Linked DNA regions of Homo sapiens. The protein of the gene in region 1 interacts with the protein of each later gene in a biochemical or structural test. Each region holds a gene or a part of one and is shown in the gene's direction. Other genes may lie near its edges.

Region 1 (3,500 bases):
CCTCAGCCTCCAAGTAGCTGGGACTACTACAGGCACTCACCACCATTCCTGGCTAATTTTTAGTTTAGTTTTGTAGAAAGTAAGACTAAATACACTGGATCATTCAGAATGTCAGAAAGTAATGTTTTCCTCAGTTTATTTTTTCTTAATAGCACACACCATGTTATTGGTTTGTGTTTTGTTAGTGCTTGTAACTAGAGTGCAACTTAATTAACAATTTGCTCCTCCTCATGAGGTTCATGGCAGTATAGACTTAAATTCTAGTCCCATGTTTGTCATTTATTAGCTGTGTGCTAAGACTTGGTTTTCCTATCAGCAGAATTGCTATGTATATCTAGGGTATGTTAGGGTTCAAACCAGGAACCCTCTTGTAAGTGAAGGTGGGGGGAGCTATTGGTAATTTTTTGTCAGAATTGGCATACTAATTTATTACTACATTACTAATGTATCATTACCTCATCTATTTCAGTGTTTATGGGCCAAGTGAATATACTTCACTAAAAGCAGTTTTACTGTAAATCACTAACAAGTATTAATTAAGGTTATGAAGAGGACTTACCAGCACCTTGCATTGGATTTTTTTTGAAGTAACAGTTCTCAAACAAGAGAGCTAGCACTATTCCCAATTGAGCAAAATGGGACTATTAAGACTGATGTAAAACAAAAATATTTTGTTAGTTCATAATACGTACTAAATTGAGGGGATTTCAGATAATTGACACCTGCAGAGGCATAGTCACAACAGATTCCTATCATTTAAGAACTGTACTTCTTGTTGAAAATAAGGGAGTGTTAGCCATTTTGGTCCTTTTTTGCATCATCTAATGGACATGAGAAGTGTCGTGGACCCTATTGGAAACAGCATGATTGGGTTAGGAATTTGCATAGGATGAGTTCAGTGGTGAGACTTTTGAAACTACACACATCTACCTTGTTTTAGTCCTATTTTCAAAATTTTGGCATTGTGAGATTTTATTTACTGTGTGAACCTAAAGTTACTGTTTAAGTACATGCCACGCAACTCTGTGTTATTAAGAAGCACTGTCTCAGAAGCTGTGTGTAAATTTAATATTAAGGCACTAAAGACCAAGCATAGGTACATGCCTGTAGTCCCAGCTACATGGGAAGCTGAGGTGGGAGGATTGCTTGAGCCCAGGAGTTCAAGACCACCTTGGGCAACATAGTGAGACCTTGTCTACAAAAATAAAAGAAGCTGAGCATGGTGGCTTGAGCCTGTGGTCTCAGCTACTCCCTTGAGCCCAGGATGTCAGGGCTGCAGTGAGCCATGATCTGTGCTACTGCACTCTAGCCTGGGCAGCAGAACAAGACCCTGTCTCAAAAAAAAAAAAAATTTTTTTTTTTAAGTTAAGGCATTAAAATATTTGTCACAAATCTCAAGATTTCTACTTGACATAGAAGCCATGAGAGAAATAAACATTGTAATGACATATATCGTTGAACTAGGTGTGATGTTAGCTGTTGATGCTGTAATTGCTGAACTTAAAAAGCAGTCTAAACCTGTGACCACCCCTGAAGAAATTGCACAGGTAAGGACTTAACATGTTACACGTTTTTTAAAAAAAATTTAATGGCATGTGTGATTTTTTTTTTCCCTTGATCACACCAATGTCAGAATAACAATACTACCCAATCATCAATATTAGAATCATTGTTTCTTACTGCTAAAACCTTTGAAAAGAATTATGACCATAATGGTTGTCATTTAGTTCTACATGTGGTTGTCATTTTAGTTCTACATGGCTGTAAAATGGATTCATATGATTGTGAAAATGTTCTTAGCCATTGTCAAAGGTGCATAAGTTTTGTCAGTTTGTAATGAAGTCAGCATTTTTAAACTTTTTGTTACAAGAATAGTTTTATGTATCATATTCTTCAAAACAATGTAGTCAAATAATGAATCGGAAAAGAGCAAAGAACCAGTACTTCATGAAAACTACCATAACGTAAATTCCCCTTCTCTCCCCTGGATGGAAGTATCAATTTGGAAGTTACTAGGAAAAGGTAAGGGAACTGACTGAGGACACTAGGCTTACCTTTTAATTTCGAAGAGTAACTGGATTATTTCAGGTTGCTACGATTTCTGCAAACGGAGACAAAGAAATTGGCAATATCATCTCTGATGCAATGAAAAAAGTTGGAAGAAAGGGTGTCATCACAGTAAAGGCAAGTGTGTTTGTATTTTTAAAGATAATTTTGAGTTATCTTATGATCAAAAGTTTGAGTTATCTGATGATCAAAACTGAATTTTTCAAACAGAAAAATTCTGTTTTAAAAACTGCTTTTTTTATTCCTTCATATGTAGTCTCAGCACATGTATAGAATAAAGTACTTACTGTGTTTTATGTGAATTAGCCTTTGCTGCATGAAATGAATCCATCCTAACTTAAATGATTATTCAAATAAGCACTTTTGGGATTTTTTGCAGAAGTGTAATTGGATGTCCTGGGCTGTTTCATACTCTACCCTGCATCTCTTATGGCCAGAGGGGTCTGTTTTTATTAATCTGGCCTGTAATTCCATGTTTTGTGTTCAATGAAATCCATATACCTAATTCTTTGACTTTTCATAGGATGGAAAAACACTGAATGATGAATTAGAAATTATTGAAGGCATGAAGTTTGATCGAGGCTATATTTCTCCATACTTTATTAATACATCAAAAGGTAAGAACAAATCAATAACTGAATTATTATTATTTTTATTATTTTAGACAGAGTCTCATTCTCTGTTGCCCCGGCTGGAGTGCAGTGGCATGATGTGGTGGCGCGTTGCTCACTGCAACCTCCGCCTTCCGGGTTCAAGTGATTCTCTTGCCTCAGTCTCCCAAGTAGCTGGGATTACAGTCACACGCCACCATGCCAGGCTGATTTTTGTATTTTTAGTAGAGATGGGGTTTCACCATGTTGGCCAGGCTGGTCTCTTAACTCCTGACCTCAGGTGATCCACCCACCTTGGCCTCCCAAAGTGCTGGGATTATAGGTATGAGGCTCTGTGCCTGGCCAATTTTTGAATTTTTTAATAGAGACAAGGTTTAGCCATGTTGGCCAGGCTGGTTTTGAATTCCTGGCCTCAAGTCATCTGCCTGCTTTGGCCTCCTGAAGTTTTTAAAATATACTTTCTAATATGTGTCAAACTATAGGTATTAGTTGGTGTCATCCTCTAAAAAATAAATGTATATATTCCAAAAGTTAATGCATATGAGAAATGAAGGAGGAAAACCAACTCACTGGTGAATTTTAAAGTGTATTGGAACCTTGGTTTCGCTTTTCATTTAAATGTATTGCAGTCATTTTTTGTATATTTTTGAAATCTTCATTATTTTTACAGGTCAGAAATGTGAATTCCAGGATGCCTATGTTCTGTTGAGTGAAAAGAAAATTTCTAGTATCCAGTCCATTGTACCTGCTCTTGAAATTGCCAATGCTCACCGTAAGCCTTTGGTCATAATCGCTGAAGATGTTGATGGAGAAGCTCTAAGT
Region 2 (3,500 bases), on another chromosome or scaffold:
TTCACATGGTGGCAGGAAGGAGAAGTGCCGAGCAAAGGGGGAAAGGCCCCTTATAAAACCATCAGATCTCATGAGAACTTAACTATCACGAGAACATCATGGGGGGTACCACCCCCCATAATTCATTTATCTCCACCTGGTATCACCCTTGACATGTGGGGATTATTACAATTCAAGGTGAGATTTTGGCGGAGACACAGCCAAACCATATCAGGATCTAAGGGGAAGGTCTGGGATCTGGCATGTTAATCATTCTTAGTCTAATAATATAATCACCAAAAAGAATGCAGTATCCTAGGGCACTACTTTCTTGGGAACAGTAGTCATAGTATTCTTTTCCCATGTGTATTGGTGAAGATTCAACCAAAGAAGCAGAACCAGTAGTAGATAGATACAGGTATATTAAAGAGTTTTATTGCGAGGAATTGGCTTACACAATTATGGGGGCTGGGTACGTGAGTCCAAAAATCTGTAAAACGGGCCATCAGAAAGGACAAGCTGGAATTCTCCAGCAGGGGCTGAAGTGGTACAGGTGAAATTTCTTCAGGAAAGCCTCAACTCTACTCTTAAAGCCTTTAAACTGATTGATTCAGCCCACTCAGATTAAAGTCTGACCGGGCACAGTGGCTAACCCCTGCAATCCCAGCACTTTGGAAGGCCAAGGCAGGTGGATCACTTGAGCTCAGGAGTTTGAGACCAACCGTGCAACATAATGAAACCCCGTCTCTACAAACAAATTAGCCAGGCGTGGTGGCATGTACCTGTAGTTTCCAGGAGGCAGAGGTTGCAGTGAGCCAAGATAGTACCACTGCGCTCCAGCCTAGGCAACAGAGTGAGATCCTGTCTCAAAAAAATTTAAAAAAAAAACTGAATTGTAATCACATCTACAAAATGCCTTCAAAGCAACACCTAGATACAGTATCTGAATAACCAAGGACTATATCCTAGTCAAGTTTAACACTATGGGAAGGAAAGAACTACACAGCTATATAGGCTAAGGGGATTCAGGCTTACATAGATTTTCTCCCAAGTTCTTCCTAGAATGGCATAGGTAAAAACCGAGAAGAAAGTGTATAGAATATTTGCATTGATTGCCTCTGGGCGACGGGGCAGATTTGTTGATGTGCATCTTGCTGCCTGCTTCCATCTTCATGCTGTTCTTTCTTCTGGTTGCTAGGATGCTCTGATTATCTCTTTCCTTGGTAGATTTCAAATTCACAGACTATATCGCCATTCCAAGAAACTCTTTAATGATATTTTTGAATACTACTCAAGTTTGTTTATGGCTAGCTTAAGCTCAAACAGAAAGAAATCTCAGTGGGGGAGATGTTCACTTGAGCCAGCATTTCTCCTCGAATATGATGAGTGTAATTTTTTTTTACGACCTTCCTGTGATGCATGTAATTGGGTTTGGTTGCTTCTTCTGTATTTATATATAACATATGTTGGTGTCTTGTGCTTTTTTTTTTAAGGCTGAGAAAATTTAAAGTCTTTGTTATCAAGCATGCCAGGGAAATAGTGATACCAGTTAGTAAAAAATGTTAGAGCTCTTTTTTGTTGTTGTTCTTCCTTCCACTTCCTTACTTGTTGGTCAGTCCCACACATATAGTGAACAGCTGCTGAGTGCCAGGCACTGCAGGGTCCTGAATAAGAGGGCAGAGATTTATACATGGAAATCACTTGCTTATGCCAACTCTAAAGATACTTCATTTTTCACCCCTCTCCCCCAATGTAAGAAGAAACTGAATCCTCAAAGTGATCACAAAATTTTCTACCAAACACTATAGTAATTTAGGGTAAATATTTCTTAAGTAAGGTATTGAGGGAAAATGCTTTTCCAAAGTTGTCTAGACAGTCAAGTTGTGGCTTTAAAAGAACTTGAGGTGAGAAGGGTGGGAATGGCCACTGATGAGTACAGAATGTTTTCTTTTTTGGTGTGATGGAACTGTTCTAAAAGTAGATAGGAGTGATGCTTGCTCGACTCTGAATCTACTAAACGTCACTGAACTATACACTTTAAAAGGGTAAATGTTATGGTGTGTGATTTATATCAATAAAGTGGCTTTTAAAAGTCTTTGGAACCAGCCGGGCACAGTGGCTCACATCTGTAATCCCAGCACTTTGGGAGGCCGAGGTGGGCAGATCACGAGGTCAGGTGTTCGAGACCAGCCTGGCCAACATAGCAAAACCCCGTCTCTACTGAAAATACAAAAATTAGCCAGGCGTGGTGGCAAGCACCTGTAATCCCAGCTACTCGGGAAGCTGAGGCAGGAGAAGCTCTTGAACCAGGAGGCAGAAGTTGCAGTGAGCCAAGACTATACCACTGCACTCCAGCCTGGGCAACAGAGCAAGACTCCGTCTCAAAAAAAAAAAAAAAACCTCGTTGGAACCAAAAATTAAATAAACAAGTTTTACTGTAATGCTATAGTAGCCTGGACACCATCTTTAGAAAATCCAAAATTGCCTCCATTATGTAAGATTTAAATAGTCTCCCATCCACGAAAGTTAACTTAATTTCATGTTATAATTTTTTACGATCTCACTATCAGAATCTCCACAGTGATTAAAACTTCTTGAAGGTGCAGTTCTCTCTCCCCCTACCACTCACACACTTGGAGTAGCAAACACTGACCTGGTTTCTGATGTCTACTATGGCACCTAATAACTTTGTGACTTTAGGCAGGTTACAAGTAAGCCTTGTTGAACCTCTTTCCTTACCTATTAAATGAGATGAATAATGACAACTTTTTTGGGTGATTTTGAAGACTCACTGAAATTTTGTATGTAAAGTTTCTGGCACACAGAAGGGTATAGATATCAGTTCCTACCCCCACCCCCATAAACTTGCTACTTTATATCTTATAGAACATACACATTAATATTAATATTAATGAAATCACAGTGAACAGACTCATGATCTCATTTTCACCTTAACATATTACTTTGTTCTTGTTTCCCTCCATCTTGAGACAAAAATCCACTGCCACCTAAATCAACTCTCTCATCTCCCCTGACTTGATTCTGGATTCCTTTTTTTCTATCTTCACCTTGCTCTGCTGTCCCAACCTTTTAGTATTATCAAAGGCAAAATAAAAATTTTGCGATGAATTCTCTAAATTTAACATTGTGTTTGGGAAGAAAAAATTGCAGTTTAGGGCATACATGCAGACAAGTGACCTTCCATATGTCTGAAGAACAAAGGGAAGGTTAGAGGTTTTATTTAAAAGGAGAAATGTTACTGCTCTTTGAGAAAGTTCATTGGCACTACTAAGGTTTGGGGGAGCTAGCAAGCTCCGACTGGCGAGCAGTGAGTGGTGGGCAAAATCAGTTCTAGAGTTGCAGCAAGTTATCTCAGAAGCTATAGATAAAACTGGTTTCAGGTTACAACAAGCAGTTCCAGCAGTCAGGCTTACAGAGAATTACATTCTTGGAGCAATGTTTTATACCCTGAGTGCTTTTTTCCCCTGGCCCCTCAACTCTGATTTAGTTGGGTATGACAA
Region 3 (3,500 bases), on another chromosome or scaffold:
GGGCTCCTCAAGGAAGTTTTTGGTCTGCTTGTTAAGGAGCCAGGGAAGTCTCAGAGATTGCCACCATAATTACAAGGGGCAGGAGGGAGTTGGGAGGATGTCAGTACTACAGTTTCCGTCTAGGCCCCCTTTCCTCCTTTCTAACAGCACAGCTTTGCATTTATCTGTGGACTCATTGGGGTTCCATAAAGCATTTTGATTACAGTGTTTCATGGCTAAGTTTGAAAACCACCTTTAGTAAATGTTGATGGAAAGAAAAGAAGAAGCCCTGACAGAAACTTACTCCCATCTGGAGAGGCCCGCCCCTTCCACGGGACTCCTTGAGGCTCAGGTTGGGGGGCAGCTGCAAGGCTCTTCTTGATGGGCTTCTTCCCCAGGGCTATGGTGACAAACACATCACACTCTATGACATCCGGGCAGAGCTGAGCTGTCGATATAAGGACCTCCGGACAGCCTACCGCTCTCCCAACACAGAGGAGATCTTCAATATGTTAACCAAAGAAACACCAGAGACCTTCTACATTGGTAAATTCTGGGGTCATTTTTTTATTGGGGGCAGGAGGTGTGTTTACTGTGTACATTCAAACCAAGCAGCAGTTCCAACAGATTGAGGCAGGTTTGTGTTGTACATGGGGAAGGCCAGGAGAGCATTTTAAAAGACTAAAGAGTCCTGGACTGGAAATCAAAACTGAATTTAAGGTCAAATGTGCTTCCAGTGTGCTATGGAATCTTCATGCAGTTAGTCTTCTTATAGGCTTTATTTTCCCCTATCATCAAATCAGGGGAACGGCCAGGCACAGTGGCTCATGCCTGTAATCCCAGCACTTTGGGAGGCCAGGGCAGGCAGACTGCTTGAGGCCAGGAGTTCGAGACCAGTCTGGGCAACATGGTGAAACCCCATCTCCACTAAAAATAAAAAATTAGCTGAGCGTGGTGGTGGGCACCTGTAATCCCAGCTACTCGGGAGGCTGAGGCAGGAGGATTCCTTGAACCTGGGAGGCAGAGGTTACAGTCAGCCAAGATAGCACCACTGCACTGCAGCCTGGGCAACAGAGCAAGACTTCATCTCAAAAATAAATAAATAAATAAAAATCGGGAAGAGTTCCCTCTTCAAGGATGGGAAGGAAGTCAGATATTCTGTCACTGAAAGGCTGGTGGAAAGAAGTGCTCTCCACATTCTCTGAGCCTGCTCCCCATCCTCTTTTCCTTCTTGCAGGAAAGCTCATCATCTGCAATGTCACTGGCATTGCCCACAGGCGTCCCCAGGGTGAGAGCTATGACCAGGCGATCCGCAATGATGAGACAGGGCTGTGGCAGTGCCCCTTCTGTCAGCAGGACAATTTCCCTGAACTAAGCGAGGTGTGTGCTGCAGCATTATCCTGCTCAGTGGATTTCCTTGGTTGAATGATCTCGGTGCCTAGAAGGGAATCAGAAATGAGGGTGTTCTAGATCATTCTCTCACCAAACAAGTACACAAAGAAGGAAGACGGACGGGAAACACACAGGTTTAGCATGAAGTCCCTTCTGAGAAGGCTGACATAGCTGGGCACGGTGGCTCACGCCTATAATCCTAGCACTTTGGGGGCCAAGGTGGGCGGTTCATCTGAGATCAGGGGTTCGAGACCAGCCTGGCCAAGATGGTGAACCCCCGTCTCTACTAAAAATACAAAAATTAGCCAGTTGTGGTGGCATACGCCTGTAATCCTAGCTACTCGAGAGGCTGAGGCAGGAGAATGACTTGAACCGAGGAGGCGGAGTTTGCAGTGAGCCGAGATCATACCACTGCACTGCAGCCTGGGTGACAGAATGAGACTTCATCTCAGAAAAGGAAAAAAAAAGGCTGACTTAGAAACTTCTTATGGTCGGCCGGGCGCAGTAGCTCACGCCTGTAATCCCAGCACTTTGGGAGGCCGAGGCGGGCGGATCATGAGGTCAGGAGATCGAGACCATCCTGGCTAACACGGTGAAACCCCGTCTCTACTAAAAATACAAAAAATTAGCCAGGCACGGTGGCGGCCACCTGTAGTCCCAGCCACTCAGGAGGCTGAGACAGGAGAATGGCGTGAACCCAGGAGATGGAGCTTGCAGTGAGCCAAGATAGCAGCATTGCACTCCAGCCTGGGCGAAAGAGCGAGACTCCGTCTCAAAAAAAAAAAAAAAGAAACTTCTTATGGTCGCTGGGTCAAAACAAAATGGCAGACAGGCATGGTGGCACGTACGTATAGTGCCAGCTACATCAGAGGCTAATTTGGGAGGATTTCTTGAGCCCAGGAGTTCGAGGCCAGCCTGGGCAACATAGCAAGACCCCATCTCCTTTTTTAAAAAAAGGGAGGGGCTGGCCGGGCGCGGTGGCTCACTCCTGTAATCCCAGCACTTTGGGAGGCTGAGGCGGGCGGATCATGAGGTCAGGAGATCGAGACCATCCTGGCTAACACGGTGAAACCCTGTCTCTACTAAACAATACAAAAAATTAGCCAGGCATGGTGGTGGGCGCCTGTAGTCCCAGCTACTCGGGAGGCTGAGGCAGGAGAATGGTGTGAACCCGGGAGGCGGAGCCTGCAGTGAGCCGAGATTGCACCACTGTACTCCAGCCTGGGCGACAGCGAGACTCTGTCTCAAAAAAAAAAAAAAAGTGGGGAGGGGCCAGGCCGGGCACAGTGGCTCATGCCTGTAATCCCAGTACTTTGGGAGGCTGAGGCAGTTGGATCACCTGAGGTCAGGAGTTCCAGACCAGCCTGACCAACATGATGAAACCCCATCTCTACTAAAAATATAAGGATTAGCAGGGTGTGGTGGTGAGACTCCTATCTCAAAAAAAAACACAAAAGGGAGGGGCCTCAGTTGCAGCTAAAGGGATCTAAGTTGGATAAACATAAAAGAGGATGGGGCACAGTCACACCAGTAATCCCAGCACTTTCAGGGGCCGAGGCAGGTGGAGTGCTTGCCCAGGAGTTCAAGACCAACCTGAGCAACATGGCAAAACCCTATCTCTACAAAATAAAATTAGCCAGGCTTAACCGGGTGCAGTGGCTCACGCCTATAATCCCAGCACTTTGGGAGGCCAAGGTAGGTGGATCACGAGGTCAGGAGATCGAGGCCATCCTGGCTAACACAGTGAAACCCCATCTCTACTAAAAATACAAAAAATTAGCTGGGCATGGTGGCGGGCGCTTGTAGTCCCAGCTACTCGGGAGGCAGAGGCAGGAGAATGGCGTGAACCCGGGAGGCAGAGCTTGCAGTGAGCCAAGATTGTGCCACTGCACTCCAGCCTGGGCAACAGAGCAAGACTCTGTCTCAAAAAAAAAAAAAAAAAAGATTACCCAGACTTGGGGGCGTGCGCTTATAGTCCCAGCTACTCGAGAGGCCAAGGTGGAAGGATCACTCGAGCCTGGGAGGTTGAGGCTGCAGTGAACCCTGATTGCACCACTACACTTCAGCCTAGGCAAAAGAGTGATACTGTCATAAGAAAAAGATGGCTAGGTGTGGTGGCTCACGCCTGT
Region 4 (3,500 bases), on another chromosome or scaffold:
TCCAACTCCACCATTTGCAAAAAGTAAACGGACTCAAACTGGAGGATCCTGTTTTAACAGAAATTTAGAAATAAAATGTGTGCCTTCTGTCAAAACTGTACATTTATTTGTCTTAGAGTTATTGATGAAAACACTTGCTGTTATACCAAGTACTGTGTGGATGATTAGAATTAAAATGAAAGGAAAATTTTGATTTAAAATTATCCATATTTTCAATTTCCTGAGTAACCTTTATTGTGAGAAAAAGACCATTGAATAAAATCTGTCAGCTTTGATTATGTAAATCACTCACTGTGGCTTTGTCTCTTCGGCCTTAGCTTCACTTGGTTCACTGGAACACCAAATATGGGGATTTTGGGAAAGCTGTGCAGCAACCTGATGGACTGGCCGTTCTAGGTATTTTTTTGAAGGTTAGTTGATGACCCAATTCTTTTTTTTCCCTATTTTTAATAAAGAATGACCAGACAGAGTATTTGTAACATACAGGACATTCTACAAAAGAGCTTAGGAAATGCCTTTGTCCCTGAAATGTTTTCAAGTTTATCTCCTCCTTTCATATCTGCTAGTTGCAGTGGAGATGGAGGGCAGAAAGACAATAGGAGAGGTACTTATTTGGTACCTTTTGGATGTAAATGTGAAGAACATAAAGAGATCAACTTGGGTGACTGCTAGGTGTTTGTTTGTTTTCTTTTCATTTAACCTGAGGCTAGACAGTACTATATTATGATAAAGTAAGATCAGGTTCTGAAGAGGGGAAGGACAGTGAATTTCAGGCAACAGTGGGACAGAACCGGTTGAGCTGCCCTCTAAACAGTGGTAAAGGGGAATGGAGAAAGGTCTGGGCTGGAGATTTATGAGCTCTGATTCATATGTTGAGGTGGAAGCTACAGGTGTGTATGAAATCATCCAAGTACAGCACGAAGAGGGAGATGAGAAATCTGCCCAGGGAGCAATCCTGAGAAACTGCAAAATGTAAGGCCTTTACAAGGGGAGAGATGCAAATTAAACAACTTAAAAGGGGCCAGGTGTGGTGGCTTAAGCCTGTAATCCCAGCACCTTGGGACACCAAGGCAGGAGGATAGTTTGAGGCCAGGAGCTCAAGACCAGCCTGGGCAACATAGCACAATTCCATCTCTACAAAATTTTTTTAAAAATTAGCTGGGCATAAAAAACAAACTAACAAACAAAAAAACAAAACAAAAACAAAAACACAAAATTAGCTGGGCATGGTGGTATACACCTGTAGTTTCAGCTACTTGGGAAGCCAGGGCAGGAAAATCACTGCAGCCTAGGGGTTGAGGTTGCAGTGAGCTATGATCATGCCACTGCACTACAAGCTGGATGACAGAGCAAGACTCTGACTCTAAAAAAAAAAAAAAAAAAAAAAAAAGCGAGAGTCAAGAGAGATTTGGGTTGCTGGAAGGCGTAGGGAAAGCCAAAGAAGAAAATAATTTTTAAAAAGAAGGGAAGACCATAGTGTAAAGTCCTACAAGGAAATCAAGGCAAGCCCTTGAGGAGTATCCTTTGGCAGTTAGAGGTCACTGGGGACAATTGAGCTGGTGGTTTCAGGACTACTCTCTGAGTGGAATTAGAGGCGAGTTGAAGATTCAGTGAAAGTAGGCAAGTCTATGGTGTCAGTGTCATCAAGCCAGTACTGATGGGGGTCATGTATGAAGTGGAGAATTTGGGCTCACTATTTGGATGTTTTCTAATAGAGCTACCCAAATAAAAATAAAAACTGGTACAGTACCAACTGGGTGATAGTATCTTGCCCTTTATGTTTTTCTTTAGGTTGGCAGCGCTAAACCGGGCCTTCAGAAAGTTGTTGATGTGCTGGATTCCATTAAAACAAAGGTAAATTTGAATTTTCTGCCACCTCCTTAGGGTACCAATTTTCAATACTCCATTGGTTTTAGAAATTTCTTTTGATCAAATTGCACAGTCTCAATGACATGTGGTGTTTGGATGAGCAGTTAGTAAAGGTAGAATATTACTTAAATATTTAATTAACGTTTCTTTCAACAAAGTTGATCCTAATGCTAGCATAATTCTAAGACTTGTATTTATTTAATCTTGCTCCCCCATCATTTGGACATCCATATGTAAGAGTCAGAGAATCTTATGCCTGCAAGGAGGTTCAAAGGTCCTCTAGTCAAATTATTCACTCATTCATACAGCAGATATTTGTTAAGTATGTACTATGTGCCAGTCGCTTTGCAAACTAGTAGACACAATGGTGAACAAGATAAACAAGGCCCTGTTTCATGGAGATTTCTATTCTATGACCTCTTTGCATTCATCCATCCTGCATTTAAATCCTCTCTGCAGCATAGTTGTGTTGAGGTCGTTGAGCATCTGTTTAAACACTACAGTCACTTCCGGTGATGGGGAACTTATCACCAGGGGCAGCCCTGGCTTTATAAAGCTGATCTTCACATTGAAGCAGCATCTATCCTCTGAAATGCTCACTCACTGGCTTGAGCCCCTTGAATTCATAGAATAAACCTGATCTCTCTTCCAAATAACTCTACTCTGTCTCTACTTTGTTTTTTCACCTACCCCAAACTAATTATCTTTAGTTTCCTTTAACTATTCTCATATGATATAGTTTTCTCTCTTTGCCACCACCTTGTCATTCTTCCAGTAAATCATTCCTGTTTGCTTGAAAAGTGTAGTGTCCAAAACAGAATGTAGTTATTTGATTCTGACCTAGAGCAAGAAAATCACCTCCTCATCAGGATACCATATTTCTGTTATTGCAACTTGAAGTCACCTCATTTTAGTGGCAGCAGTCTCACTTTAAATACTGGGTGTGATCAGCTAATGACTTAATGGGGAATGTAAGGGATCATTTTAGATAAAAGGCCAAGATGAAAAATGGACATGTGAAAATAGTTTTTTTTTTTTTTTACTACGACTTGCCACATATTTTCAAGTTGAATGTCTTCTGTTAATTTCTCTTTATTTTGTTTGCCAGTGAATATAGAACCTCTTTTTTAAAAAGTGTTTTTGACCATCAGAGGGGAGTATACCTATTTGTGTCTGCTGCTCTCCTACCTTCCTCCTACTCTGTCAATGTGATAGTTTGAAGCTGCGTATTTGCCTTGTTCTAGGGCAAGAGTGCTGACTTCACTAACTTCGATCCTCGTGGCCTCCTTCCTGAATCCTTGGATTACTGGACCTACCCAGGCTCACTGACCACCCCTCCTCTTCTGGAATGTGTGACCTGGATTGTGCTCAAGGAACCCATCAGCGTCAGCAGCGAGCAGGTTTGTTTTGTAATGACAGGTCTGTTTACGGGTGGAGCATTTAGTCAAGGCAGAAGACCTTGGCCTCCAGAGTGAGAGAGAACTGAGATTTAATCCTTCTCCTGCTACTTCTTGCTATGGAAATAGTGCCTTTGATGGTGCCTAGCAAATAAACAGCGTTCAGTAAATCTTTGTTGTTATTAACTATAAACTTAGTTCGTTTAGTCTCTAAAATTGAATAGTCATTGTAAG
Region 5 (3,500 bases), on another chromosome or scaffold:
GAAGAACCAGAAATAAAACCTGCCTTTCTAGACTGTAAGTCTTGTGATTTTCATCTAAATGGTTGTCTCTATACAGCAACTCATCTCTAGAACTGAAAATAAGCTTAAATCCCTCCTCCATCCCCAATAATTCAAGCTGCATTTCAGAGAAAACCAGGACTTTGGAATCAGACAGATCAACTTTGAATTCTTGATCTGCTTCTTCATAGCTATTTACACTTAGGCAAGTTTTGTTTTGTTTTGTTTTACGTTGCCACTCAGTTTTCTCATCTGTAAAATAGGGATAATAACACCTTCCTCAAATGGTTTTATTAGGACTAAAAGAGAGAATGTGTGGAAAGATGTTAGTGGAATTCCTGGCAGATAGTTCACATGGACAAAATGGTATTAACTACAAAAATTTTTACAGAGAAAACGGTAACTGACAAAAGCAGGTGTTTGGAATGAATTAAGACCATGGCAGCCTTTTGAGGCCTTTATATTTCTCCTGACTGTGCAATAAAAATATTTTGGCTCTCTAAGACTTGGCTGTCACAGTAGCAATGGTAATATTAGCTACTGTGCCAGAAGCAGCCTATCAATAGAGAAATTGAAAATCTGACCACACAAATGCTGCAGCACCCAGCTGAAATGCATTTGGATGACAATCTCAGATGGGAATCGAGAGCATCTCCTTCTGCCTTGCTAATAGCAAGCTGATTTTTAGAATATAGTCTAAGTGCTTCTTTTCCATCCTCCCCAGATTCTCACCTGCTACACACCCCTCAGAGGGACTGGAGGAGAACTACTGCAGGAATCCAGACAACGATCCGCAGGGGCCCTGGTGCTATACTACTGATCCAGAAAAGAGATATGACTACTGCGACATTCTTGAGTGTGAAGGTCAGGAGTGGTTCTAGAAAATGTTTTCATTTCTGCCCTTCACCTGTAAAATAATTTGTTGTAAAGCCCCTTCCCACAGGGATGTTATTAATAATTGAGTAACGTATTCACCTCTCGGAAAGAAGCAAAACCCCAGAATTAACCTGAATTTTTTTTTTTTCTGAGACAGAGTTTTGCTCTCGTTGCCCAGGCTAGAGTGCAACCGTGCAATCTCGGCTCACCACAACCTCCGCCTCCGGGTTCAAGAGATTCTGCTACCTCAGCCTCCCAAGTAGCTGGGATTACAGGCATGTGCCACCATGCCTGGCTAATTTTATATTTTTAGTAGAGACAGGGTTTCTCCACGTAGGTCAGGCTGGTCTTGAACTCTCGACCTCAGGTGATCCGCCTGCCTCAGCCTCTCAAAGTGCTGGGATTACAGGCATGAGCCACCATGCCCAGCAGACCTGAATTATTTTTATTAAAATGTTACATCAACATGTACAAATATAAAACTACATCTAAACTCTAAGTACAAACTTCTTATGCTTACAACTCTTACACAGTGTTAACCCCAAGACAGGTTTGCAATTAAATAGTTAAAATAAAACAACAAAATCAATAAAAATCAAATAAACAATATATATTTAATGTGGTAGACTTTGCTGTTTTGCTGAAGCTAAGCAAGGAACCAGTTTTTAAATCAGCAATCCATTATTTGAATGGACTGAGCAATTTAATAGTGCACCTCAAAGGTCAATGCTAAAAAATTTTAAAAAAATCCTACTGAAAAAACTGTCATCGTTTCACATTTCTGGCTACATTAGTGCAAAAGGGAATAAATAAAGGTGAGATTTGTGTGACAGTGTGGATATGGTACTGTGTGACAACTCAGTTCTCCCATCACTTCCACCTGTTCGAATCACGGGGATCCTTTATTTGTACACCATGTTATAGGTATTTGCCCTTAAGCACCACCAATGCATCACTGTTATATTAAGTCTGCCCGTTTTCCTTAGTACTCCATAAAATTTAAGTCACATATTACTCTGCCTCACCATGTTACTTCAATAATTCTGAATCAAAGTTTAAGTTTGTGAATAATTTTGCAAAAAAGAGCCAATCATGCTTCTCAACAACATAAAAAGAGAAGCGCTGTCACTTCAGGTGAATATTGTTCTCCCTGAGGCCATGAGCATAAACAAAAACTCCAGACTAAAACCCTGAGACGGTGCCAGGTCATTCAGCAGTCAGCGGAATGATCAGAATAATTTCATACAAAGTTTTAAAGATCATTATTGAAATGAAGATGCCAAATATTGAAAACTCCTAATGGAGAACGTAGACTCCTGGGAATATATGCACCCTTGGCTCCCCACTGGCCTGTGCATCCCGGTCTAAGGACATGGCATCATGGAAATTCTGAACTTGGTCATGACTACAATAGTTGAGGGAGTATTGACTAAAATATGTGAATGTTACGGTTTAAAAGGAAAATGACATTTGGATTATGCTAGAAAATCCTGAGTCCTTATTGCCAATTTTATTGCCAAGTGCCTGTTGTGAATTACATCGGAATGAGAGGCAAGTCGCACTTAAGTGAGTAGGATTCTGGTTTTTACTCTCTATTTTGCTTCATCCATTTCAGTTTTCTTCTTCCTCTCTGTCCTTCCTTCCCACTCTGTCCAGAGGAATGTATGCATTGCAGTGGAGAAAACTATGACGGCAAAATTTCCAAGACCATGTCTGGACTGGAATGCCAGGCCTGGGACTCTCAGAGCCCACACGCTCATGGATACATTCCTTCCAAGTAAGTCTCACTGGGAAAAACATTCCATGTTTAATTAAGGCTCTGCAGCTCTATCAGACATTTGCTGTCATTTAGATATTTTAGCATTCCTCAAGAAGTGAACGCCTGATGTTTTTAATTTCAAAGCTAACCTCCTCCCACAATATTGCAAGTGAAATACGCATTCTTGCTGCTCAAAATATGGTCCACGGGTCAGCAGCAGGGATGTTTTCTGAGAGTTTGTTAGAAATCCAGAATGTCACACCCTCTGAATCTGATTTGAATAATAACCAGATCCTCAGCTGATGTGCACACACATTCAAACACTAATGTCAGTAATGAATACATTAACATCTGTCTTCAGAAATGCACACACACATGTTGCTGGTGTATTTTCCAAATATTTTCCTTTTCTCTTTACTCCTTGTCTTTCTTTTCCCTTTGTACCAATGAGATTCAAGTCTCCTAACCTTTGACCTATGAGCAGACGTCATGGATTTTTGAATCCCTGATGTTTTATGTATATTTACATCAATGTGTTTTTCTGGAATGAGGATTCGTAACTTCCATCAGATTCTCTAAGGGGACCACGAATTTAAAATAAGAATAAGCTTCTTGCTCTAGAAAGTCATGATGGTTCCTAGAATAAGGTTTCGTGAGTATTCTATTTCACATTAATTGTGCTGGAAAACACCTCCCATTCCACAGTCGCTTCTGGTCTTCCTCTTCATTCTATGATGACTACAGGGCCATACCAGGGCTTTCAAGAATGCAGAAGTGAGGCTGAGCCACAGATTCCACGGTGGAAAGCAGCTCTATTGAATTTGTACACCTCCCATTCCAAATAGCT
Region 6 (3,500 bases), on another chromosome or scaffold:
ATGTACCATATAATTTTTTAATAAAACGAGATTGCCCAGTGGGAAGTGGGATTGAGGGGGACACAGATAGGGCTTCATCAAGAAGTTATAAAATCAAAACACAAAACGCTTTATAGCAAACGGGGCACAGGAGTACACCAAGGCTCCAAGTTTCACTTCCATCTTGAGAATCTGACAGGTGCACCTGTCTGTTTCTCCGGAGCTCTGTTAAGGCAGGTTTGAGGAGGTCTCTTCCCTTTGTTGTCATAGGGAAAAGTAGATTTGGCGCTGATGTTGAGATCGACAACCACAACAAAAGACCTTCACATGTTTGTCTTTCCTTTTGTCTGCAGGGGGTGCAGCTTTTATTTTCCCAAATACTTCAGTATATCCTGAAGCTACGCAAAGAATTACAACTAGGCCAGGTACGAAAACACCCCTGTGTGATCTCTTCATTGAGAGACATCCCAGATGTCCTGCTGAGATCCGTGCCCTAAGTCACGTGATACAAAGAGAGCTGATCCCGGAGCTGAAGCCAGTCCCAGACAGTCTTATTCTGCCTCTGTTGATTTGGAGACTAAATCCACTCAAACCATTTCATTCAAAGACCACACTAAAGGAATTAAGAGCAGATTAGCCCTTTAACTAGCTTTTCAGAAAGACAGATGGGCAAAGAAGGCATCCTGGATGCCTGGCAGTTAGGAATAGGCCGACTTTTGAACTAACAGAAGGATCTGTCCCTCCTCGGGGGAAGAGCACAAAACAAGGACACTCCCCAGATTCACAGTGACCGATTATCAGTATGTCACAAGAAGCCAGTCTTGCAGAGCAGAAGCATGCAACCAGTAGTATTTACATCTGAATCTTACTGCCTGTCCTCCAAATGATTTAATTAGGTAATAAATTTACATGCCATTCATGCAAAAATAAACATCTATCAAGTGCCCATTAGTGCCAAGCGTGGTGTTAGACTCTGGGAATATATAGATGAACCAGGCTTCAGTAAGCTTCCTGTCTTCAGAAAGTTTACTTCTTCATTCAGCTTGGTTTGTTCATTTGCTGAGTGCCTCCTCTGTGCCAGCCACGGATGGTATGATGGTGAACAAACCGAAATGTTTTGCCTCCAGTTCTAGATGTTTCAGTAGAGTGACCTAGAGCCAGAGAGACACATATGTACACATAAATGTTTTCCCTAATGTGATAGATTTTATGGTAGAGGAACCACTTCTAGCAATACAGGGCGTAGGAGCAGGGGTGGGGAGGAACTCAATCCCCCATGAAAGGCATAAAGATGCTTTCCAGAGGAATGGCCACATGGCAAAGGGGAATTAGATGTTTGCCAGACGAATAATGAGCAGGGAGAGAGGGCATTTCCCAGAAGGGTATAGCTTGCCTTTAGCATTTGTCCTCTCCCTGGGACTTACATCAGCCCGATAAGCTAGGTATCATTGTACCAGCCTCACAGCTGATGACATTGTGTTCAGGGTGGTGGGATGGTTTCTCCATATTCATACATGCTTCCAGAATTCATGTTAAACTCTATCACATATCCGGAATACACAAGTCTCAGTTCGAACTGGTTCAAGATCTAGGCTTGGCAACTACTCTTTCTTTCTAATGAGAAAGACTGGGGGCCCAGGGAGCTAAAGAGAATGAATGAGGAAGCTTCTCAGGCTGTTCAAATACTGACACTGCCCTGGTTACTGCCTAGTGACTTCAGGCTGGCAATTTTCTCTTCTCTAACGTCAGAGAAAAAGTTTACTGTCTTGCTCCTGGGAAGCATGATGGAAAGGCTTAGCAGCTAAGGGGTACTAAGAGGTAGTAAGTCATCTCTGTCATGTAAAAGATTTCACAGGCCATTGAAACATGGGCAAGACCCAGTGCCTAGAGTCTGCAAGATTGGTCCTAAAGACATCCACCACGTGTATTGCGAGTGGAAAATAGAAATTCATGTTTGACTCAAGCTTTAGAGATTTTGTAATTCTGTGAGCATTTAAAAAATATTTCCATATAAACTAAAAAAATAAAAACTATTTCCAAAACATTTGGCTAGGGTTTTAAAAATTTTTTTACTTTTTAATTTTGTATTTGTTTGTTTATGTTAAGACATCTCATAGGTGCCTCTGACTGAGTTGCAAAGCCAGGGGTTGTGAGCTAGTATTATAAACTGTGTTAAAAGATCACAACACTGGCCAAATTCATTGGCACAATCTCTCTGTCAGACAAGCCAGCTGACTGATGCTACCTGGTTAAGACAGTGGGTCCTGGAGCTGCTTTGTTTTCACATTTTAGGATATGGTGGATTTGGAAGGTATGGCCCATCCAGGTGGATGGAGAAGAGGGTGACTGTGAGGATGTTGGTTGGGACTCCCTCTCTGCCCAACCCAGGGAAGGCAAGGGTGGCAAACTCAGACACCTCCCATGCCGCTCTGATGGTGGTCTTCCATGGGCCCATAATTTGAGCGTGACCTGGGAGAGAGCACACTTCCACAGCTCCACTACTAGTCAAGTATGTTTTCGCGACTCAGTTTGTACCTGAAATAACCTGTTTTGACCACTGCTACTGTGATTATGAGAACCAATACAAATATTGGTATCTGACCTGTAAAGAATTTAAAGCAGACTGAACAAGCCAGAGGACTATTTACTGTAGGCCCTATTCAGGGACTTGAACTTGGAGATAAGAACTAGTTATACACCTCGGGTCATCCATTGCTAAGCGATCAACCTTAAAGGACTGCTCCTGTGGAGATAAAAGCTGTGAACCTGCAACTGGAGAATGAACGTCGTGATGGCTGAGGGGGAAGAGCTTTTGCATCACTAACTTTCAGAGCTGAACGAGCTCCAGAGGGAGGTCACTGGGAATCTGACGATATCCCTGTGGTCAGTGGGTACCTGACTACTTTCAGAAAGGTGATTGTTGACTGTTTCTTTGAAGGTCCTTGGGGATACAGACCCAAATCCCTGTCTCCTCCACTCTTGGTTTGCTGTGCCATGATCTTCATTTCCATACCCTTTGTCTAATCCCACATCCGAGGGAACCGAACTCTGGTCAGCGTTATTGTGCTGACCATGAAGCAAGCCAGGCTCCTAGGTAACAACTCTACTTAGACCAGAATCTGTCTCTTCTCTGCATGGTGGCCGTTTCATTATAGAGTCCCTGATAGAGGAGACAGTGGTGTTCAGGGTTTACTGGTTAAATTAGACAGCATTCCGCACCCTTTCTGCAGAGACTCCTACACATGTGTGTTGTCCTGCTGCATCCACCTTCCCAGCACTTCCTCACCACCCTTCCCTCCTTCCCTTCCCACTGTGAGTCACCCATCCCTGGGTTACTGCCCCAACCTACCTTTTCTTTTCTTTTATCTTCTTTTCTCTTCTTTTTTTTTTTTTTTTTTTTTTGAGATGGAGTCTCACTCTGTTGCCAGGCTGAAGTGCAGTGGTGCAATCTCGGCTCACCACAACCTCTGCCTCCCGAGTTCAAGTGATTCTTCTGCCTCAGCCTCCCGAGTAGCTGGGGC
Region 7 (3,500 bases), on another chromosome or scaffold:
TTGAGACCAGCCTGGCCAAGATAGTGAGACCCTGTCTCTACAAAAATAAAAACTTAAAAAATTAGCCGGGTGTGGTGGTGCACACCTGTAGTCTCAGCTACTCGGGAGGCTGAGGCAAGAGAGTCACCTGAGCCTGGAAGTTGGAGGCTGCAGTGAGCTATGATTGCACCATTGCATTCCAGCCTGGGCAACAGAGTGAGACCCTGTCTGTAAATTAAAAAATAAATAAAAATAACAATAGGAATCAGTGGAGTCCATCTCTGCATGGCTGGATGACTGACTCTTCTTCCCTCGTGTGTCCCCAGAAGGCGACGATGACCGGACTGTGTGCCGGGAGATCCGCCACAACTCCACGGGCTGCCTGCGGATGAAGGACCAGTGTGACAAGTGCCGGGAGATCTTGTCTGTGGGTGAGTCGGGGTCCAGACCACAAGCCGTCCCCCCTGATCCCTTGTGTCCTGGGGTCACTGGGGCCTCACTGGTGCTGCCTTTATGGAGTCAGACAGATAAGCGTTTGGATTCCAGCTCTGCAGCCTTTGAGCTGTGTCCCGGGGCAGGTCCTGAGCCTCATGCAGCTTCGGTTCCTCATCTTAGAATGAGATGATGATGCGAGGCTGTCCCTGAAGTCGGTGAGATGTCGTTAGAGATGCAAAAGTGCCCTCCACCTGGTCGGCCCCATGTTGAAAAAAGCTTGTTGAAAAAAGTCATCCCCCTGGGACTCCCCGGTGATTCTGTTCCCAAGCGCCAAGCGCAGTAGGCATCTTCATTTTCCTCTGCAGATTATGACATTGCAGACAGTATGTGTTTTGTTTAACAAAACTGACCAGAGGCCAGGCACTGTTCTAAACACTCGACATACATTTCCTCATTTCCTCAGAATGACCCTCTGAGGAAACTGAGCCACAGAAAGGTTAATAACTTATCCAAGATTGACCCCGACATGGGCGAGCTGGGCTTCAATCCTAGGGCGCTGTGTTCTCTCCTGGGGCCCCTCGCAGCCTCTGGCCACAGAAGTCACGGGTCTCAGTACCTGGGCATCCAAGCAATAGTCCCTTTGGTCGGTTGGTTGGTCCCCTAGGCAAAGGGAATATTTCCCTTTAACTGTCCCCCTCCGTTTCACCAGCTCTGGTTATGGGTTAACTTCTTTCCACTTAGAGATAACAGCTGTGACAGTATTTGGACTAGTTCCTGGTACACAGCAGTTCATACTCACAAAGAGTTAATTGTTTCCCCTTGTCAACAGCTTATCGATCTGGTGGCTTTGCTCTTACTTAATGCTTAGTTTGAGTTTGCCATGGCAGGCCGCCAGGGTCTAGTTAAACATTCCTAGCCTCACTCCTATAATTTTAGAAGCCACTGCAAAATAAACAGTTGTGCTTTAACAGGCTGAAGTATAAGTTGCTGTAGATGAGTGCACAACCAGGCCTTGGGGCTTTTTCTATAAAAAATATCATAGAGTGGCATCAATTACATGGTACCTCACCACAAGAAAGTCATGTTAGGGTCTGAGAAAAGATGTCCAGATGCCTGTGCCCAGATTGGACCTCTTATGCTGATTTTTACTCTGTTGCCCAGGCTGGGCTCAGGTCTGGCGCCAATCTTAACAGTCATTGATTACAGTTGAGAGTGCAGCCAGCGCCAGTCTTATCAGTCATTGATTATAGCTGGCGTACAGTGGCTCTATCTCGGCTCACTGCGACCTCCGCCTCCTGGGTTCAAGTGATTCTCCTGCCTCAGCCTCCCAAGTAGCTGGGAGTGCAGGTGTGCACCACCACACCCAGCTAATTTTTGTATTTTTAGTAGAGACAGCATTTCACTATGTTGGCCAGGCTGGTCTTGAACTCCTGACCTCAAGTAATCTGCCCGCCTCGGCCTCCCAAAGTTCTGGGATTACAGGTGTGAGCCACTGTGCCTGACCTGAGATAGATTCTTAGAGAATTATTGGTAAGAATAATTCTCTAAGCTGAGCTAAATAGTCTACACTGAAGAGGACTGCCTACTGTTATTTAAGGTGCTTGCAACCATATAAGCACGTACTGCCTGGGAACTCTAGATGAGGATTTCTCAATTTCAGCGCTGTTGATTTTTTTTTTTTTTTTTGAGACAGGGTCTCTCTCTATCACCCAGCCTGGAGTGCAGTGGCACCATTACAGCTCACTGCAGCCTAGACCTCTTGGGCTGAAGTCATCCTCCTGCCTCAGCCTCCTGAGTAACAGACTACAGGTGTGCTCCACCATGCTTGGCTAATTTTTTTATTTTTAGTAGAGATGGGGTCTTGCTACATTGCCCAAGCTGGTCTCTAACTCCTGGGCTCAAGTGATCCTCCTACCTCAGCCTCCCAGAGTGCTGGGATTACAGGTGTGAGCAGTGCTGACATTTTGGACCAGGTCATTCTTTGTCGTTGGGGGCTGTCCTGAGCAGTTCAGGGTGTTTGGCAGCATTCCTGGCCTCTGCCCACTAGAGGTCAGCAGCTCCCTTCCCTTTGTTGTGACAACCAGCTTCAGAACTTGCTAAATCTCCCTGGGTGACAGCGTCACCCCAGTAGAGAACCTCTATTCTAGACTAAGCCTCAGCTCTCAAGGATTTTTCTTATTTTATTATTATTTTTTTAAGACAGGGTCTCGCTCTATCACCCAGGCTGGAGCGTAGTGGCGCAATCTTTGCTCACTGCAACCTCTGCTTCCTGGGTTCAAGCGATTCTCCTGCCCCAGCCTCCTGAGTAGCTGGGATTACAGGCGTGCACCGCCACGCCTGGCTAATTTTTATATTTTTAGTAGAGACAGGGTTTCACCATATTGGCCAGGCTGGTCTCAAACTCTTGACCTCAAGTGATCAGCCTGCCTCAGCCTCCCAAAGTGCTGGGATTACAGGTGTGAGCTAGTTTTTCTTATTTTTAAATTTTTTTTTGGTAAAATAATGAAGTTTATTTATTACATATTTATTTTCAAACTGGCATCTTGTTAGTAATTCTGTTTCTTTCCCCACCTAACATTTTGTTTACTATAAATGATTGCAGTCATCATCCTAAAGCATATGCAAAATCTCCCTTCCCCTGACTCACGTTTGATGTACCTGCCTCTGGATATTTTTGAAATACCTTAGGGGGAGAAAAACAGTAGTTTTAAGAGCTAGTGGACAGTTTCCAGGTCTTAATGAATCTGACAACCTGCAGCCCAGGGCCAAGAGGAATGAATTCTCTTTTCCCTGCTCTCTTGATGAACTCACTGACCAGCCATGGGCGGGCAGGTGGGCAGGCAAGGACCCCTGGCCACCAGGTGCCAGTGCATCAGCTGCATGAACTCCTGGCACCAGAACTGCCACCTCTACAGACATGCTCAAAAGACAAGTTTGGACCGGGTGCATTGGCTCACACCTGTAATCCCAGCACCTTGAGAGGCCGAGGTGGGTGGACCCCTGAGGTCAGGAGTTTGAGACCAGCCTAGCCAACATGGTGAAACCCTGTCTCTCCTAAAAATACAAAAAAATCACCCGGGGGTGGT

The links.
Region 2: the proteins of HSPD1 (region 1) and DHFR form a complex in vitro, tested with the Homo sapiens proteins (one study listed by BioGRID).
Region 3: the proteins of HSPD1 (region 1) and SUPT6H form a complex in vitro, tested with the Homo sapiens proteins (one large-scale study listed by BioGRID).
Region 4: the proteins of HSPD1 (region 1) and CA2 are reported together in a solved structure, tested with the Homo sapiens proteins (one study listed by BioGRID).
Region 5: the proteins of HSPD1 (region 1) and PLG form a complex in vitro, tested with the Homo sapiens proteins (one study listed by BioGRID).
Region 6: the proteins of HSPD1 (region 1) and ERG form a complex in vitro, tested with the Homo sapiens proteins (one large-scale study listed by BioGRID).
Region 7: the proteins of HSPD1 (region 1) and CLU form a complex in vitro, tested with the Homo sapiens proteins (one study listed by BioGRID).

What each region holds. Positions count from the first base shown.
Region 1 is NC_000002.12:197,493,341-197,496,840, reverse strand, and holds part of HSPD1 (60 kDa heat shock protein, mitochondrial), read left to right. Parts: intron 1-1,464; coding exon 1,465-1,547; intron 1,548-2,088; coding exon 2,089-2,184; intron 2,185-2,590; coding exon 2,591-2,684; intron 2,685-3,348; coding exon 3,349-3,500. UniProt on the Homo sapiens protein: Chaperonin implicated in mitochondrial protein import and macromolecular assembly. Together with Hsp10, facilitates the correct folding of imported proteins.
Region 2 is NC_000005.10:80,644,984-80,648,483, reverse strand, and holds part of DHFR (dihydrofolate reductase), read left to right. Parts: intron 1-3,500.
Region 3 is NC_000017.11:28,689,705-28,693,204, forward strand, and holds part of SUPT6H (transcription elongation factor SPT6), read left to right. Parts: intron 1-377; coding exon 378-525; intron 526-1,216; coding exon 1,217-1,359; intron 1,360-3,500.
Region 4 is NC_000008.11:85,474,007-85,477,506, forward strand, and holds part of CA2 (carbonic anhydrase 2), read left to right. Parts: intron 1-317; coding exon 318-410; intron 411-1,791; coding exon 1,792-1,854; intron 1,855-3,113; coding exon 3,114-3,269; intron 3,270-3,500. UniProt on the Homo sapiens protein: Catalyzes the reversible hydration of carbon dioxide. Can also hydrate cyanamide to urea. Stimulates the chloride-bicarbonate exchange activity of SLC26A6. Essential for bone resorption and osteoclast differentiation.
Region 5 is NC_000006.12:160,712,244-160,715,743, forward strand, and holds part of PLG (plasminogen isoform 1 precursor), read left to right. Parts: intron 1-742; coding exon 743-882; intron 883-2,550; coding exon 2,551-2,671; intron 2,672-3,500. UniProt on the Homo sapiens protein: Plasmin dissolves the fibrin of blood clots and acts as a proteolytic factor in a variety of other processes including embryonic development, tissue remodeling, tumor invasion, and inflammation. In ovulation, weakens the walls of the Graafian follicle.
Region 6 is NC_000021.9:38,397,478-38,400,977, reverse strand, and holds part of ERG (transcriptional regulator ERG), read left to right. Parts: intron 1-332; coding exon 333-404; coding exon of another isoform or gene 405-616; exon of another isoform or gene 617-906; intron 907-3,500. UniProt on the Homo sapiens protein: Transcriptional regulator. May participate in transcriptional regulation through the recruitment of SETDB1 histone methyltransferase and subsequent modification of local chromatin structure.
Region 7 is NC_000008.11:27,601,201-27,604,700, reverse strand, and holds part of CLU (clusterin isoform 1 preproprotein), read left to right. Parts: intron 1-305; coding exon 306-410; intron 411-3,500.